Regions from separate parts of the Homo sapiens genome. Here region 2 is linked to region 1. The links come from fine-mapping of genetic effects on gene expression. Tissue or cell type: whole blood. Region 1 holds a variant in brackets; the other region holds the start of a gene. All regions are shown on one strand. Distances are between the middles of the regions.

Region 1 (10,676 bases):
CTTATTTCTGTTTTTTGCCCTGTCCCACTCCTGAGGCAAGGAACCCTAGCTATTTGAAAATGGAGGGGGGAAAAAAGCGAATTACTAGGGGAAAAAAAAGATGAACATCATGTTAGCATTATCCAGTGTGGTGTTTGGGCTATTCCCATTTTCCCTGCCACATTCTAGGCTGAAGACTCATCATTTGTCTCCTGGTTTCCTGCAACAACCAATAACCACTCTCCTTTCTTCTTTCTCCCTCTCTGGATAGGCATATATGTTTTAAGCTGTTTCATATCTTGCCAGATTGCACTCTGGAAAGGCTGAGCGAATTTATGCTTCTGCCAGCATCATAAGGAGTGCTTGTGCTTGTTGTTAAAGCTTTGGCTTCCTTCTTTCCCTCTCTCCTTCCTTCCCCTCCCTCCCTCCCTCCCTCCCTTCCCTTCCTTCTTTCCTTCCTTTTCTCCCTCCCTTTCTTCCTTCCTCTCTCTGTTCTTTCTTAACCTGTTTTAATTTTTAGAACCCCCTTCCCCTCACCCCGTGGGAAAAAAAGGAAGTTTGTTTTTTAAATTAGAATGTATTTGGTTATAAATGAGGTTAAAGCCCTCCTTCCTCAAAGTTTGCTCATTGAACGTTTGTATATCCTCTTCATGAATGGCCTGTTGCTAATTTTCCTACTGGAGTGATTGTCTTTTTAAAATTGTGTTCACCTATTTATGTTTATCTCATAGCATTGTGCTTATATCAGTGAATTGCTATGAATACTTTTTTGGACTGAGATAACATATATGACATTTATATGAAAGAATAAGCATTTTTATAAAGCTAACAGCTTGGAGCAGCAAGTCACCTTTAACAGTCAGAGGGAGAAGTACGGCATGAGGCATGCATGCTGCTGTGAGGGAACGGGGGACCTGAGTGTGGGCTGGGAGCCTGGGGGCATCAGGGACCCTGGCAGGGAGAAGGGAGGCAGGTACTGCTCACCTAACGTTCCTTCACTCCTCACCATCGTGCACAAGGAAGGTGAGGCAGGAGTTACTCCCGTTTCACAATGACTTGTCCCAGCTCACACCTTAAAGAGATCTCTCGAGACCAAATATGGGATTTTTCTACTATATCACAGTGATTCATATGTTTATTTGTAGAAGGCAAATAAAGCCTTAAAATATATCAAATGTACAATAATAATGAAGCAATTTTTTAAATGTTCAATAGCATGAAGGCCCTGGTCCAGGTCATTATAATGTGAAAATGCCTCCAACAAGCTCTGTCACTTCTTGTTTTCAATCCAGAGTCCCTCGATTCTTGCCCAGCTGTTCAGTAAGTATTCGGAAAGACAGATCGCCCCCCACCCCTAGGGGTATGGTTATGGTGGTAGGTTTTCTGTTTCTATGTGTGTAGGAGGTGCGGGGTGGTGGTGAGATGGGGGAATGATCATGTGTGTACAGTTCTGGTAGATACAGTTGCCTGTCAAGGCAATCAGGAGTGAAATCCTCAAATACCTGGATGTTCTCAACCAACTTCAGGTTCAGAGTGACTCCAGGCCCAAAATCTGTGGCTGAATTATGGGGCCAGTTGGAAGCAGCACATTAATCAGCCATCAATGTTACCAACTAGATGCTTTGTTGGGGGTACCTGCAGTGGCTGCCTCCTGCCAGCCAGAATGGCTGTTCTCTGTGTGTGTGGCTTCTGGGAGCCCAAGGAAGCAAAATTTGAAGCAGAAACATTTTTATTGACCCAAATGGGACCATTAAGGCATTAGCGATCACCCCACCCCCAAAAACTCAGGACAGACAGGGAAGAGGCTCAAGTCCATGGAGAGATACAAAGAAAGTGGATCCTGGGAGCATACAGGACTCCTCCAAACCTAGAGAAGACCAGGAAAGATTATAAAAGCATAATGTGAAGTTTACCAACAGTGGATTTTTTTTTTTTAATGTCAAAAGACAGTTTTAATTCCCATAGCTTTGTTGCTTTCAGTCTGCAATACGGTCTGAAAGTCCCCAAGACTTGCTGGTATGTAGACTCATTTGAGATGGCTGGGGAAACAGAAATACAAATTCTGCCTGTAAGAAAATGGGCCCACCCAGGGGAGTCAAGGGGCTAGAAGGAGAAGTTGGAGCGGTGGGTAGGAGAGGACTAGTACTGCCACTGCCTGGGCTGCAAATCACCTCCCGTAGCCCTCCTTAGCCTATATCCCAGGCCATGGCCTGCAGAATCTCTGCCCCAGAGCTGCTGGGCAGCAGAGTAAGGTAGCACAGCCTTTATCTAGAGTGATAATGGGGAGGCCCTGCCAGTGAAATTGCAGACAGACTGACAGCAGGAGGCTGGGGGATCCACACACCTTAGTGGCATCACCATGATCCAGAAACATGTTTGTCGGAGCCCACGGGGTCAGGCATTCTCAGGAACGCTGAGTCATGCTAACCAAACTCCCAGGCAACAGAAGATGTAGTGTTAACTTCTAAGCATTCACCATACGGGCGTGGTGACTGGAGCACTGATTGGTGGAGTCTCTCCCTTATAGAAAATTTTCATGGAAGCTGAAGACAACCAGAAGGTTGTTGGTGGCAGTGAAATCAGGGGAGGGGAACTGAGCTTGATGTTCTCAAGGTGGCTGAACCCCAACCAGCAGCCTCCCGAGGGGTGGCCTTGTGAGATGCAGGCCCCCTGAACCTTCTTTTCTCTGCCCTGGCCTCCCAGGACTCCACATGCACTTTGAACCCTCATTAATAGCAATAATAAAGGCTTCAGCTTCCTTTGACGTTTGGCTAGGACTTGATTAGATTTCCAGGCTGCTCCTCTGCTTTTGGCAAGGGAAACATCCTGTCATTTAAAGCGGTTTCTGCAGGCAGCTGATCTCATGTGCTCTGGACTGACTGCTCTGCTCCACTCTTGCTGTTTCCTGAAGAGATAAGAAACTGCAGGGCAGGGTGGAAATGACAAGTAGGTGATAATAGTAAAAAATAATAGTGGTGGTAGCTAACTGCTGGCCTGTCCAAGCCTCTTTGTCTTAGAGAGACACCAGTGAGCCTCATAGCCCCCTAGAGGCAGGTACTCTGCCCCGTTTGATGGGTAAGGTATGGGAAGCCCATGCCCAGGCTCCCACTGAGCTGTTGGTTGTGGGACTAGGACTGGAACTCAGGCTTGTTGGACTCTAAAACCCTTGATCTTAACCATTACACTGGTGTCTCAAATGCCTTCGGACTTCAAGAATATGTGCATGTGCCACCAGCATGGGAAGACACCGACCTAAGAAATTGAAGTCTTAGTCTATGAAAATGGCATTTATTTGTATTTTATCACTGCAGAAGAGAAGCTTTGTTTAAATAATTGGTAAAATAGGGCCAGGTGTGGTGGTGCACCCCTGTAATCCCAGCTACTCAGGTGGCTGAGGCATGAGAATCGCTTAAGCCCAGGAGGTGGAGGTTGCAGTGAGCTGAGGTCCTGCCACTGCACTCCATGCTGGATGACAGAGTGAGACCGTATCTCAAAAAAAAACCAAAAACAAACAAACAAACAAAAACAAAAAACCCCGGCTGGGTGCTGTGGCTCACACCTGTAATCCCAACACTTCAGGAGGCGGAGGTGGGCGGATCACGAGATCAGGAGATCAAGACCAACCTGGGCAACATGGTGAAACCCCATCTCTACTAAAAATACAAAAAAATTTAGCTGGGTGTGGTGGTGGCGGGCACCTGTAATCCCAGCTACTTGGGAGGCTGAGGCAGGAGAATCGCTTGAACCCGGGAGGCAGAGATTGCAGTGAGCCGAGATAGCGCGCACTACACTCCAGCCTAGCAACAGGGCGAGACTCTGTCTCAAAAAAATATATAAATAAATAATAATATTTGTTCAAGCATTTTATAAAAACAAAAACATGACTTTTAAAAATTAGAACTCGTGGATCCCTTGAGAACACTTCTGACCCTGGGGTCCATGGACCCTGGTTGAGAAACACCTTACTTTAATAACTCTGGGTCAATAACTAAAACCCAACCCGAGTTTGAGAGGCGATTTGGGCTTTTGAGTTAGACCAATCAGGTTCAGAATTAATTCTCTTCACTCACTTCTTGCTAGGCTGAGGTCACCGGGGGAAAGATGATGGCATTCCTCGGGATAGGAGTTGCCTGGGCCAAGTGCCCTTTGGGAGAAGGTGTGCCTTGAGATGCAGGTGGCATGTGACCCCGCCTCTCCCAGCAGGTTCTAGGTGGCCCCTGGCTTGGCCTGGCCTGTTAGCCCCCCTCCAGCCTCATGATGAGCCCCTAACAGGAGCAGCCTCTGCTCCAAGGACATGCTCCAATTCGAGGGTCTGCCAGGCTTCAGCCCAGGCTGGTGTGGCCCTGGTCTTCATCCTTGGGGAATTTGTCCACCACATCCAAGCCAGTGGCTAGGCACAGGAGCCTCAGGGTTTTGGTTTCACTGTCTCATCAGTCCCTGTTTTCTGCTCTGTTTTCAGAAAACCCCAGGCCCAGGAGCATATACAACTTTAAGACAATTCCCTAAGCAGTCTCCGACCATAGCCAAAATGGGCCAAGAGCATAGCCTTTTCTTCAACAACAACAATTGGCTTTTAAAATAAAGTGATCTTGGCACCAAGCTCTACTTTGAGGTTTAGTACGTTCTCATGTTTAGAAAACTGTATTTTGTCTATTCCTTGGAGGGGTCTGGCCACAAAACATGATTGATTGCTTGAGGTGACTGTCCTGCTTGCTTATCTGGGATAGTCCCAGCATAATTACCAGTTCTCTCTCAAAAGTGTCCTGGTCTGAGCAATAAATTATGTGTTCACTATGCTTATTACCAAAGAGCAGATTCGGACAGACTGTGCCCCGGGCTGCTCTCAGACAGGCCCTGAGATGTCTGGTCTCTGCTCTGTGTGGCCTTGTTCTCTCTAGCTGGAACTCAACTGCATCAGGGTTATAAGGCCTCATGGCCCTCTTGAAGACTTCCGTGGGCGGTCAGCATTAATCAGAGGCCAAGCTGAGCGTCACAGCATCCCCAAAACTGGTTCTTTCTCTCTTTGAATCCCCTGAAAAGAACAATATTGATTCAACCTGATGAATATTTGTGTTTTCAAGTCAACAACATTTTGAGTATCTGCTATGTGCAAGGTGCTGAGCTGGGGTTGGAGAGTGGAGTCTTGAAACAAAGATGAATGAGGCACGTGACTGAGTTTGGGGAGGGTTGTGCCGGAAATGGAGTGTGGG[A/G]TAGTGCCGGCTGGGGGAAGGCCATACAAGCTGTGCCAAGGATCTCCTGCCAGTTGCCCTGTGTTTGAAGCTAAGGGGCTGCCCTCACGTGGATGGCAGTTCCAACAGGAAGACGAGCTGTAGTTTCAGGAAGCTGCCAAATCATTGCACCAGGTGCACAGAGGAGCCATTGTGACAAGGAAGGCCGCAGGCATTCAGAGGAAGGAGAAGGCAGTGTGGCCTGAGCCTGGGAGGTAAGGGGTGGCCCGCACGGAGGAGGGTAGATTGGCCGGCACCCCAGGTATCAGGAGGCTGTGATCAGCAGAGGAAAGAGTCAGGGGTGGGGAAGCCTATCTGGGCAAAGGCCCAGGGCAGGAATAAACATTTGCTGGAGGGGAACAGAGGCAGTCTGGACCAATGACAGTGGAGGGTGCAAGTGAGGGTGTGGGAGGGGATGAGGGTCCTCAGAAGGCTGGGACCACATGCTTTCTGCCCAAGGGGCTCTAGCTAGGCAGATCCTATGCATGACAGTGGTGTCTCAGCAAAGGCTAGGGAGATTCCAGAGTGGTTAATAAATCATTGCAAAGGGTCTTTTTAAAAAGCTAATAAAATGAAGAGCTAATAAAATGCTTACATTTTGTTATATTTTAGTAAATAGCCCAGCCCCTCCCCATTAACTGCTATGATGCTGGCTTCTCTAGGTCCCCGCTTTGGTTCCCCCGAGAATCCCGCTCTTCCTCCCACACACACATTACCCTCCTCCCACAACTGCCCTGTGAATTGGGCTCCAAACAAAGGGAATGTCTCTTTTTGGCTGCAACAAAGCCCTAGACTTACAGGCCCTTGTAAAATGGTTGTTGAGGGGCGAAAGGGAAGGCCATCATCTCCTGGAATGTATTCACATTTGTGGAATAAACGCCCTACAATTACATTCCTTTGGAGCAGAAAACAGACACTTGGAAGATCAGACTGATGTCTCAGGATAGTGTCTCCTGTCCCCCTTTGATGAGAAGATGGCTGCAGGGAAGATAGTTTCCAATTTTATTCTCCAAGTGGGCTAAAGTCCCCTGCATGATCGAAAGTAATGGCTGGACATTCTGATGGAGGGTGTTTTCTCTAGGAAGCAACATCTCAGGCAGCACCTGGCACTGAGATGCTGTTCTAGAATGAGATAGAGGCGGGAGATGGCCACGTGTATCTTAGCCAAGGCTCATTGATAGAAAGGTTAGAGAAACCCCTCAAACTAGCAAGGGGAAGAAGGGGGTCAGATTGTAAGGATTTAGAGGCATCTCATCGACAAAAGTGTAAACCAGGGGCTGGCAAGAACCATCTCTCTCTCTCTCTCTCTCTCTCTCTCTCTCTCTCACTCTGTGTCTGTGTGTGTGTGTGTGTGTGTCTTGCTCTCACTCTCTCAGGCCTCATGGTCTCCCTCCTCTCTCTCAGGCCTCATGGTCTCCCCTCTGCCTCTCTCAGGCCTCATGGTCTCCCCTCTGCCTCTCTCAGGCCTCATGGTCTCCCTCCTGTCTCTCAGGCCTCATGGTCTCCCCTCTGCCTCTCTCAGGTCTCTCTCTCTCTCTGTCTCTCTCTCTCTGTGTGTGTGTGTGTGTGTGTGTGTGTGTGTATGTGTTCTTGCTCTCACTCTCTCACCCTCTCAGGCCTCATGGTCTCCCCTCTGCCTCTCTCAGGCCTCATGGTCTGCCCTCCGCCTCTCTCAGGCCTCATGGTCTCCCCTCTGCCTCTCTCAGGCCTCATGGTCTGCCCTCCGCCTCTCTCAGGCCTCATGGTCTGCCCTCCGCCTCTCTCAGGCCTCTTGGTCTACCTTCCTCCTCTCTCTCAGGCCTCAGGGTCTCCCCTCCGCCTCTCTCAGGCCTGCTTTTTTCTCCCTCTGGAGGCTGACTTTCACTGCCTCTTTATATGTAGAGGATCAAATGCGGCGACCTCAGCTTCTCCTCATATCACTTTCTGAGTCAACATTCTAAAAGAATAGAGCCGGCACCTCCTTGGTTCAAGTCTCCAATTCCTAGGAGAGAGAATCCAGTTGGCCAGCTTGGGTCAGGGGTCTGCGCCTGGGCCACGAGCTGTGGTCAGAAGGGCCCAGACCTTTGCTGCAGGCACGGCTGCGGGGGCCCGTGTGAGGTGCGTGTAACTGGGGTGGAGGGCAGCTCCCTGGCATCCCAGGAGAGAATGAGGACCCTGTCGGAATCATAAGGGGAAAGCGTTTATACCAGCTTGCAGGAAGAGGGTGGGGGCCTGCAGAGACTTCCCCTGGAGGTGGAACCCATGGAGAAGATTCTGCAGGGCCATCTGGGCTGCTTCCGTTTCCCCCAGCAGATGCTTCTTCCTGCTCTGGGCTTTTGCCCAGATAGGGTTCCTTGCCCCTGACCCTCCTCCTTCTCGCTGATCTCAGCTTCCTGATCCCTGGGGTGCCGGCCAACTGCACTCCTACATGATTTTCTGGGGAAAGCTAGTGCCTGACCATGACCAGGTGACAGTTGTTCTGGGTAGAAGGACAAGCAAGGGCCTGAACCCATGTGCTTTTGCTGGTCTGATTCTTGGCTGGGGTCCCTACAGACCCCTTGGTTTTGGCCAAGGGCAGGGCTGCAGGCGCATAGAACCTGCCAGGCTCAAAGGGAAGGGGTTGGGCTCTGGATTCAGGGCCTCATGGCCTGCCCGTCCCACCCTCCTCTTAGCAGGGCTGGGTGGGCTTTGGGGGCCAGTGCCCAAGCCCCAGACCCTGGCTGGGCTTATTTGCAGCCTCCTCAGAGAAAAGGCAACTCTGGAGAGCAGGAGGGGCCAAGGCTGGAACCATGGGAGGCTGGGAGGTGGTGGGGGCATGAGGAAGGAAGGAGCAGGAGATGGGTGATGGGAGGAGGGAGGACGGAGTGGCAAGAGAAGGGGCTCCTGGGGATGGACTTGTAGGGGAAGGCCTCCCAGTACATACCCCTCAATTGTCTTGTTAACAACAGCCTTGCCCATATTTGAGCCCAGAAAAAGGTGCCATCCTTCTAGACAGTTGTAGGGGCTCCAAGGGGTCTAACTAGCATGGGAGCAAGCTAGCACCGTGACTGCTTTGGTGGGAGTGTGCTTTAGTTCCTGAAAACTGTAGGCAGACAGGGTGACTGCAGGAAGTTAACTCAGGCTATGACACTGCGTCTTTGGTCACCAGAGTGGGCTGAGTGGGGGCAGAGGCAGGTACTGACAAGCATTCTATTCACCTCACCCCGTTGCAGCCTAGCAGCCTGGGAGGAGGCCGTGGGGGACAGCAAGGCAATGTGCTGGGAGCTGTGCTGGTCACAGGTGGAGTGCAGGGCTTGATGAAGGCTGGCCGCTGCCCCCCTCTTCCCTGCTCTGAAGTTCCAGGGCTCCAAGGCCCTGCATGGTCACTGAGCGCCATCAAGGAGGAGGGAAGTTGCTGGAGCTTTCCCGATTGAACAGCGTCAGAGTGGACACTTGGAAATATACCAGGCAGGATCACGCCTATTCAGGCTTCTAATCCTCAGCCCCTCCTGGGCTGGGCATGGGAGCTGGACTTGCAGAATACCCCAAAGCGCAGGTTGACAAAGGCCTCCCTGAGCCCTTGTGCCCATCTGTGCTGGGGTAGCTCATTCACTCAACCCTCTGTGTGAATTTCTTGTGGCTGCTGTAACAAATGACCACAGACTTTGTTGCTCAAAACAACACAATTTTATTACCTTACAGGTCTAGAGGTCAGAAATCCAAAATCATTCTTATTTGGCCAAAGTGAGGATTTTGACAGGGCTGGTTCCTTCTGGAAGCTCTGAGAGTTGGCTTCCTTGTCTTCTGCTTCTCGAGACCACTTGCATTTCTTTCCTTGCAGCCCTTCCTCCGATCGCTCCACTCTCATTTCCGTCATCACATCTCCCCCTGTTGACTCTGACCCTCCTGCCTGCCTTATATAAGGACTGTTGTAGTTATATTGGGCCCACTGGATAATCCAGGATAACCTCCTCATCTCAAGATTCTTATTTATTTATTTATTTATTTATTTATTTTTGAGATGGAGTCTCACTCTTGTCACCCAGGCTGGAGTGCAGTGGCGCGATTTCAGCTCACTGAGACCTCTACCTCCCAGGTTCAAGTGATTCTCCTGCCTCAGCCTCCCAAGTAGCTGGGATTACAGGTGGGCACCACCACGCCTGGCTGATTTTTTGTATTTTTACTAGAGATGGGTTTTCACCATGTTGGCCAGGCTGGTCTCAAACTCCTGACCTCAAGTGATCCACCCGCCTTGGCCTTCCAAAGTGCTGGGATTACAGGCGTGAGCCACCTCGCCTGGCCTCATCTCAAGATTCGTAATTCAATCACATTTTCAAATCCCTTTTACCCTGTAAGGTAACATATTCACAGGTTCTGGGGGTTAGAACATGGACACTTTTGGGGGGACATTTCAGCCTACCACACTACCTTTCTAACCTTTCTCTTTCTAACCTTTCTCTGGATCCCTCACAATGATCTATCAGGAAATAGAAGCCTTGTAGAAAGTCACCTTGAAGTGTGGGGAGGCTCTTTGGATTATTTTGAGTCACAAAATACTATTTAGGGAAGATCTCTTGGCCTGAATAACCTCAGTCATTGCTGGTGTTGGATGCTGATGGAAATCATCTGATGAAATAATTAAAAAAAAAAAAGTAGTAAAGAAATTTAGAACTGATTTATAAATCATCCCCAGAGGTTTGATTTTATGGTTGCTCATGTTAGATGTTACAACACGCTCTTTGTAGATCACTTAAAAAGCAATCTAGTTAAAAGTTGCATTATGGAGAATGGGGTCAGCGATGGGAAGAACTCTCCTGTTTTATAAATGGTACTTATGGCTCCAGATAAAATCTCTGGTGGCCACATTATTCAAGACTTTTTAAAGTGCTTTATCTGAAATATCTTCATAGACATGAATATGAAAGTTCTGAAAATTGTGTTCAATGGCCCGTGTGTCCCAGAAGATCCTAATGTAAAGATGCATATTTATAAAGTAATTTATAGAATAGGATTAAACATATGTAGAACTTTATTAAGAAAATATAATGACTTTGGGACCAATTACAGGCCCTTGAACAGCCACAATAGGCTCAGGAGGGCTGTGCTTCTGTGTAAAGTCCCCTCCCAGACACCACCAGGGTACAGAGCTGGGATGGTGCATGGCTTGGGCAAGTCCATCTGGGCAGAGAGAGAAGGCCAAGGTCAGCCTGTGGGTGGGGACATGGCGGCCTCACTCCACATTTGTACCTCAAGCCTCCCAGCCACAGGGGCGCCTCCTGGGACCCAGCTTGGCGTTCCATTCATGGGGGCACCCACACGTGTGGCTGAGCCCGGGTATGTGGAATGTGGGGGTCCAACCCAAGAAGCAGAACCCACAGGGCTGTGCTGGCCTCTGGGTGTTCTGCCAAAGCATAAGGGCCCCGTAAGGTGGGAGGCAGTTGGCAGAGGACTTCTAGAAGGCGTGGGAAGGATCTTAAAGGACAAGGCACAAGCAAGGAGTGGGCATTCTGG
Region 2 (8,012 bases), 68 kb before region 1:
AATGCTTCCTACAACATAATCCTATTGGAACCCAGGACTGTGATATCACCTTCAAGTTGTGTTTTTGTTTTTGTTTTTGTTTTTTTTAGATGGACTCTAGCACTGTTGTCTGGGCTGGAGTGCAGTGGCGCAATCTCGGCTCACTGCAGCTTCTGCCTCCCAGGTTCAAGCAATTCTGCGTCAGCCTCCCGAGTAGCTGGGATTACAGGCGCCCGCCACCACGCCCAGTTAATTTTTTGTATTTTTAGAAGAGACAGGGTTTTACTATGTTGGCCAGGCTGGTCTCAAACTCCTGACCTTGTGATCCGCCCACCTCGGCCTCCCAAAGTACTGAGATTACAGGTGTGAGCCACCTCGCCCAGCCCCACCTTCAAGTCTTAACCATACTATTAGTGTTATATTAATAGGATTTTGGTAATTGTACCAACCATAATACTGTCTGGCATGTTTGCTCTCAGATGATTCTCCCAATAAACAACTATTGCAGTTAAATATCACCCTTGGTGTAACGTATTTTCCTAAAATTTTTAGAAGACGGCAACAATTTTAAAGATCTGATATGTAACAGAGGCACTGTTGAGCTCAATTATAGATATGTATTCTCAAGAGAAATGCCTCTCCCCCTTTTTGAAACTTACAATAATCTGGAAATAAATCTCAGTGATACTATATAAGATAATGTTTTCTTAAAGGAACACTATGTTTATCCTACGTGCTTAATCTGCTTTGTGGATAGTCCTTGAAATCATTGACCCATGCTGTTTCTATTTTTGAGATACTTAAACTATTTTCTCATCTAGATGTTCCCATCTCTAATGTCACACCTTGTATGGGTTTCTGGACTTCTCTGTACCTTTCATATTCTTTTAGTCTCGAGGGTACCAGTCCCTAGTCTGCTGAGCCAGTTTTACAGGCTCAGCCAAAATAAGAAAATGAAATGAGGCACAGGGAATGGACTTGATTAATCTCTTAACATTTGTGAGAACTTTGGTATTGCCTCTTCACTTTCTAATTTCAGTTGTTCATTTTAAACCTAGTGCCTGTTTTTTTTTTCAAGGCTATGTTAAATGAATTTAGAATCCCAGTATTTTAAGAAACTAGATGAAGTCCTCTAGTCTCTTGCTCCTCAAAAAGTCACCTACAGAATCACCCAGGAGCTTGTTGGAAATGCAGAATCTTAGGTCCTGCCCCAGAATTGGAATCAATCTGTTTTTTTAACAAGATCATCAGATATTTTGTATGCATATCAATTTTTGAAAAGCACTGCTGTAATCTAGTCTTGGATTTACTTAGAGGGGAAAACTAGTCAGTGGTTTATTCAACAAATATTTTAGTCCTTGTGTTCAAAGGGGTCAATTAAAAACCGTGTTTTGGGTGTTTAAAATTAGAGGAGAAACGATTTGTCATAAAATGAATCTTCCAACAATGATAGGCACAGGGTCCTTTGGGACTTAGTGGATTAGGCTTAGAGGTCTACTCAGAGGAGCTGACCCTTGAGATTTTCCAGGTGGTCAAAGAAAAGAATAGCATTTCATGCAGAAGAGCTAGCATATGTGGAGACAAATAGAAATGTGAAGATGGCATGTTTGGGGTTTTTGCAAGCATGATACAGCAGAGCATGCCATCCTAATAAGAGAAGTGGCCGGGTGTGGTGGCTCAACCTGTAATCCCAACACTTTGGGGGACCGAGGTGGGTGGATCATGAGGTCAGGAGTTCGAGACCAGCCTGACAAATATGGTGAAACCCCGTCTCTACTAAAAATACAAAAATTAGCTGGCATGGTGGCGGGCGGCCGAGGTTGTAGTGAGATCGCGCCACTGCACTCCAGCCTGGGCAACAGAGTGAGACTTCGTTTCAAAAAAAAAGAGAGAAGCGAGAGACTGGATTGTAAATGTTGCTTTTGTCCTAAAGGTAATGACAGCTCACATTTACTGACTGCACTGTGCCAGACATGGTTGTGAACAGTTCGAGTTAATCTTTTTTATAACCTATGTGGATAGGTACCAATTTTATTATCCCCTTCTCTATAGACAAGGAAATAAGCACAGAATAAGTCATTATATGCAACCAGCGTCCAAGTCCTGGTAGTCAAGGGAGGAGAGTGATTCAAGAATGAGGGAATAATCAATGCAGCAATGAAAATTGAAGGCCAAGTTTCATAAGAGCTGAAAATCCCCACTGGATTTGGCACTTGGATCCCTGGTGAGTTCAGGTGCAATTTTAATTAAAAGCTGTGTGCAGGCCAGATTAAGATGTTTTAAGGAAAGTATGGGAAGTGAGAAAAGAGTCCATATTACTCTTGAAAGTTTGTAAAGGGAAGCAGAAACTTCATGGTATAGGGCAGTGGAGCTCTAGAGTCAGGTCTGGATTTTAATTCTGGTTCTGCCATTTGTGTGTGATGCTGAGTGAACTGTGCTAAACGTCCAAGGAAACCTTTGTTTCCTCATCCAGAAAATGAAACTAATACCTACTTTGTAGGGTTGGTATGAAGATTAAATGAGACTAATGTGTGTGAAGTCCCTGGAATACAGTAGGTACTGTATAAAATGAAATTAAGGTTGTGGAGGGTTTGTTTTTAAAGGTGAGAATGTTCCTAGGTTAAGAAGAAGCTACAGCCTAGAGAGGCTGACAATAAAAAGGGTCTATACTGAGAAGAATGGGGTGGTCTGTGGTTTCACAGCTAGTGAAACCGGCTGTGTCTGGTGCTCACTCCACTCTGCAAGTCAGAAGCAAGAGAAGTCAGCCCCAGAGTTTCTATTTGGAGGAGCTTAGAAACAATCTTAGAAAGTGGGTGCTAAGGCAGATTTCTCTTAAGTATGCCTACCAAGCACACTGCCTCCCTGTCTGGGGTGTGCGATTGGTGGTGGATTGGAAGGGAACTAATGGAGATTGTGGGTACGCTCAAGCCCTTAACAAGCCTCCCTTTTCGCAGATCCTTACCCGAGGGCTCTCTAGCAACTCCAGAGCCCTCTAGATTTTCTTCTCACAAGCTTTCATAACCGTCTCTTTTCGAGGGTTTTCCTCTGCGCAGTTCTTCGCGCGGGACCTCAAAGTGCGTGCCCGCTTCCCTTCCCTGCAGCACTAAAGACAAACCTGGCGGGTCCCCCGGAGCGGTCCCAGGCGCGCGCGCTCGGGAGCCCACGGGCCACACCCGCCTCCTAGCAACCGGAGCTCAGGTTCAGCCTAGAGAGAGAGGAGGCCACCATGGACCAGCCAGCCGTCGCCACCGCTTCCACCTCAATAAGGGAAGACCTGGTGGGTGGAGAATCATTCATCACAGCTTCGGTAAGATGGCCTGCCCCTTGCCGGCCTGGCTCCTGCTCCCCTCACCAGGCCCACTACCCTTTTCCCACCGCTCTCTAATCCCAGGCCTTCGTGCCGCTCTCGTTCCCTCTTCCTACCCTTCTCTCCCTGCCCTCACGCACGTCTCCACCTGCGGACCTTCCTTCCTGGTCTTTATTGGACATTTCCTTTGTTTTATTTCTTTTCCCCTTGCTTCTTCCCTTTTCCTTCTCCTTCGCCCTTTGTTTTCTGTATTTTTCCCTTCTTCCCACTACTAATTAAACTGGACAACTGCTTTAATATGGTGATTGGATTTCTTTCCCTTTCCGCTCCATCTGCCGGAAGACTGGGTTTTTCCTTCTGTAGTTTTACTAGACACGTTTTGCTCCGCCTCCTACTTTAATATTTATAAAAATATTTGAAGCTACTTTTGCTACGTTTTTCTTTTAGAGTCTCGCTCTGTCACCCAGGCAGGAGTGCAGCGGTGTGATCTCGGCTCACTGCAACCTCCGCCTCCCGGGTTCAAGGGATTCTCCTGCCTCAGCCTCCCGCGTAGCTGGGATTACAGGCATGCACCGCCATGGCTGGCCTTTGTTACATTTTAAAATAAATGTGGGTGAGGGTTGTTTAACCTAATCTTTTATCTTTCCCCTTAGAGTGAATTTAAAGTGGTAGATAGATGGAATTTAGATCACCTGTCTTGGGCAAAACAAAACAGCAGCTGCCAATTGTCTTCCATTAGATTGATCGCGTTTACTTCTCTCTCCTTCCCATCTCATTTTCCTTATTCTGGGGTAGGGGTGGGAGGCCTGTCTTGACCTGCCTGAGAAAGTTGTATTTCTGTGACTATAAAAGTGCAACAGAGAAGATTCAACATAAATCTCGCGAAGAAGTATCAAAGAAGAAGCTCAGCTTTAGCAGTGTCATGAGAAAATGTTTTTTAAAGAAATTAACATATTTCATAATAAAATAAAGCCCAGTGGTACTCATAAGTACAGTAGATTTAAGTTACTAGACAGGAAGAATGAATTATATCAGTTTTACTGATTATTACTTTTAATGCAGTCCTGCTTGATGACCTATATTTTATAGTAATAAAGGCATTATAAATGAAAGGAGAACTCAACATTTTAATGATTTTATCTAGGACAAACAGCAATATACTAAACGGTTGTGTTCTGTGGACAATGGGCTGAAATAAATATGAAATAATAATGGATGAATGGGTATAGAGTACTAAATATGAAGACAAAAGCTTCCTTGGAAACTGAGGAATACCAAAATAATCAGCTTCTTAACTTGGCAAATGGGATGTTAAAAATTAAAGCTACCATTTATTAAGCACTGATTGTATATGCAAGTCTTTATAAGTACAATGCCTTAGTCTTTTTTTTCCCCCTGAGGTGGCTTCTTGCTTTGTCGCCCAGGCTGGAGTTGCAGTGATGTGATCTCGGCCCACTGCAACCTCTGCCTACGGAGTTCAAGTGATTCTCGTGCCTCAGCCTCATGAGTAGGGATTACAGCCTTCTGAGGAGGGATTACAGGCATGTGCCACCATGCCCAGCTAATGTTTTTGTATTTTTAGTACAGATAGGGTTTCAACATGTTGGCCAGGCTGGTCTTAAACTCCTGGCCTCAAGAGATCCACCCAACTTGGCCTCCCAAAGTGCTGAGATTACAGGCGTGAGCCACCACATCTGGCATACAATGCTTTATTCTCATGCCAACTCTGGTAGTGCCTTATTTTTATACTACTGTGAGGAAGCACGAGGGTTGGGTAACTCACCCAGTGCACCTAGCTGGTAAGTGGCAGAGCTGAGTTCCAGCCTAAGTCGGTCTGGCTTCAAGCCTAACTCTTTTCTTCCTAAGGACACCACATTTTGTCACATTTAAGATACTTACAACATCTCTGTGAGATGGGGGTGTTTATTACTCTAATTTTATCAAAGGGAATTTAGTTATTTGAAAGGACTTAAGACCATAAAATAACAATTTAAGGAAATATGGGCAAATTTATTATTATGTAGCTTTTATTTTAATGAAGACATATCAGTTGGGTATGGGTGTGAATTTCTTCAAGCAAATGTTTTATAAATTATATTTAATTTCAAGGGATCACCTCTCAAATGAATAAGCATACTTTGTGTTTGTTAACAGAAACCAGCCCAAAAGACTTCCTCTTTTGAAAGAGAAGGATGGTGGAGAATAGCATTAACAGTATGTACATTGTTCAGTCTTTCCTATTCACATTATTCCTATTCCATTAATATTTTAATCAATTATAGCTTTTAAGACTAACACTAAATTGTAAGAAAACAGTGATTGTTCAGATCTGCATGGACCTCATGTCATACTTAAAATTTTAGTGTCAGCATATGAATAAGAAACTAACTTTTAATTTTGAATGCAATAGAAGCTTGGGAAAGTTAAACAATTCTAGAAATCTAGGTGCTTTACAGAATATCTAGATAAGGCTAACCTATGCTCTTATGATCTGGGTGAGATTGCAAAACAAAAAAAGCATACATTCTGGAAAGGTGTTTTGGTTTCAGTTTTTATCTTATATGGTAAAGACCTTCTGCAAATGGTTCTTAATATGGTCAATATATGAAAGCAAAATGGTAATATATGGAAGAAAAATGACCAGAAGATCCCCCTCACCAGAGAGTTTCTATATTACAGACATATTTTCTGTCAATGCCCTTCAATAATAGAGGGACTTCATGGGTCAAAGCCTTCTTGGAATTGCAGTAATTTTAAAGGCAGAACTGAGCTGAGTGCTCAGTGGAAAGATGGCCACAAAAGCAGCAGTGACTAAACGTTCAATTCTGGCCATTCAGCCACACTGGTTGTAATTTGAAAGTACCAAACCTCTTATTGGACTAACTAGGCCATATGCTCTGCCAGTTTATCCTGGTGTCATGTCATTATCCTTCAGCTTCCCACTTGAGGGCTAGAGAGAAACATCCTACATTGGCTAAGCAGATGTAGGATAGCTTCTAGTTAGCCAAGAGACTATCCTGAGTGGTCTCACTAGAGGTCTGAAATTCATAGTCAAGCTTGAATCCCAAAGTTGAATCACCGAAGTTGCCTTTTAAAAACTTAAATTTCGGCCGGGCCTGGTGGCTCACGCCTGTAATCCCAGCACTTTGGGATGCCAAGGCGGGCGGATCACAAGGTCAGGAGATCTAGACCATCCTGGCTAACACAGTGAAACCCTGTCTCTACTAAAAATACAAAAAAAAAAAAAAAAACAAAACAAAAAACTAGCCGGGCGTAGTGGCTGATGCCTGTAGTCCCAGCTACTTGGGAGGCTGAGGCAGGAGAATGGCATGAACCTGGGAGGCGGAGCTTGCAGTGAGCCTAGATTGTGCCACTGCACTCCAGCCTGGGTGACAGAGTGGGACTCTGTCTCAAAAAAAAAAAAAAGTTAAATTTCAACTCTAACCCGTTTGCTTTAATTCAGCAATTATTTCAGAAAGGAAATAATCATGATTTTGAAATACTCTTCTGTCAAGAGTGTTTACTGTATTTGATATAATTTCATTAAACTTGAAAACAAAGAGAGATGTTACTTGGGAGCTTCCCATCCAAGAATGGTGTTTTAGGAGAAGTTACATGTTTACACAATCTTAAAACTGATGTCAATTTTCCACAGGATACTCCTATACCTGGCACTTACCACTTGAAAACTTTTATTGAAGAATCCCTATTAAATCCAGTGATAGCAACCTACAATTTTAAAAACGAAGGAAGGAAAAAGCCACCTCTTGTGCAAAGAAACAATCCAGTCCTAAATGATCTTCCGCAGTATATGCCTCCTGACTTCCTGGACCTGTTAAAGAAGCAAGTGGCTACTTACTCATTCAAAGACAAACCACGGCCAAGCCCCAGCACACTAGTTGACAAAGATCAGGTAAAGCGCTACTGGCAGATTGCTTTGTGTGGGAAAGCTACTAAGAGCCCCTGAGGAAAGTATTTTTATACGTAGAGTATATCTTCCCCCAGGAGAAATGGAAAACCTTTAAGATGTCTTATTTCCCGTAGAAATCAAACAAGGACTGCCTGATTTGCAAATGTTTCCAGTAAGATTTTTCCCTATAACATCTTCTTAACCTAAGGGGAGTACATGGGGAGAAATGTTTTCCTCTTGGGCAACTCTTGGTGGGATTCCCCTAGCCTGGAGAGCACCTGGGATCTTATCTGTCATTGGGCTATGCTCTTATCTCTTCAAGCAGTATATGTGGTGAACCCTCTTCTTTTAAAGAGAAAACCCTGCCTCTCGGGGAGTATCCTTATTAGAGCATAAATATAACTACATACCACAGGGAAGCTTTTAAAAACTTTTCTTATAGAAATGACCCATCTCTACAAAAAATAAAGAAAAATAGCCGGGTGTAGTAGTGCATGCCTGTGGTCCCAACTACTCTGGAAGCTGAGGTGGGAGGATCACTTGAGGCCAGGTGTTGTAGATCAGCCCGGGCAATATAACAAGCCCTCAACTCTTTAAAAAAAAAAAAAAAATAGCTACTTGGGAAGCCAGGGCAGGAGGATCCCTTGAGCCTGGGAGTTTGAGGCTGCAGTGAGCTATGATTATATGACTGTACCCCAGCCTGGGTGACAGAGTGACATGCTGTCTCTAAAAATATTTTTTTTAATTAAAAAAAAAAAGAAAAGAAGTGAGCATGTGGTCCCAGGAGGGTCAGCTTCTACTCTCAGCTCCACCAGT

Evidence for each region. PIP is the estimated chance that this variant, and not a neighbour inherited with it, causes the effect.
Region 2: it holds the start of STPG4, and the variant in region 1 is fine-mapped to the expression of STPG4 in whole blood (TOPMed, PIP above 0.99).

The regions. Positions count from the first base shown.
Region 1 is chr2:47,080,893-47,091,568 of GRCh38, reverse strand. It overlaps STPG4 (sperm-tail PG-rich repeat containing 4), which reads left to right. Exons shown (of 7, transcript NM_001163561.2): 6 at 1,195-1,299; 7 at 4,439-4,578. The coding sequence ends at 4,561. Among named protein-coding and RNA genes, the nearest start is that of STPG4, 69 kb to the left of the region's middle. RefSeq lists enhancers at 1,449-2,648, 10,052-10,676. The variant A/G (reference allele first, on the strand shown) is at 5,190.
Region 2 is chr2:47,150,445-47,158,456 of GRCh38, reverse strand. STPG4 (sperm-tail PG-rich repeat containing 4) reads left to right here and starts at 3,149. Exons shown (of 7, transcript NM_001163561.2): 1 at 3,149-3,286; 2 at 5,441-5,500; 3 at 6,942-7,199. The coding sequence starts at 3,206. RefSeq lists an enhancer at 2,472-2,631.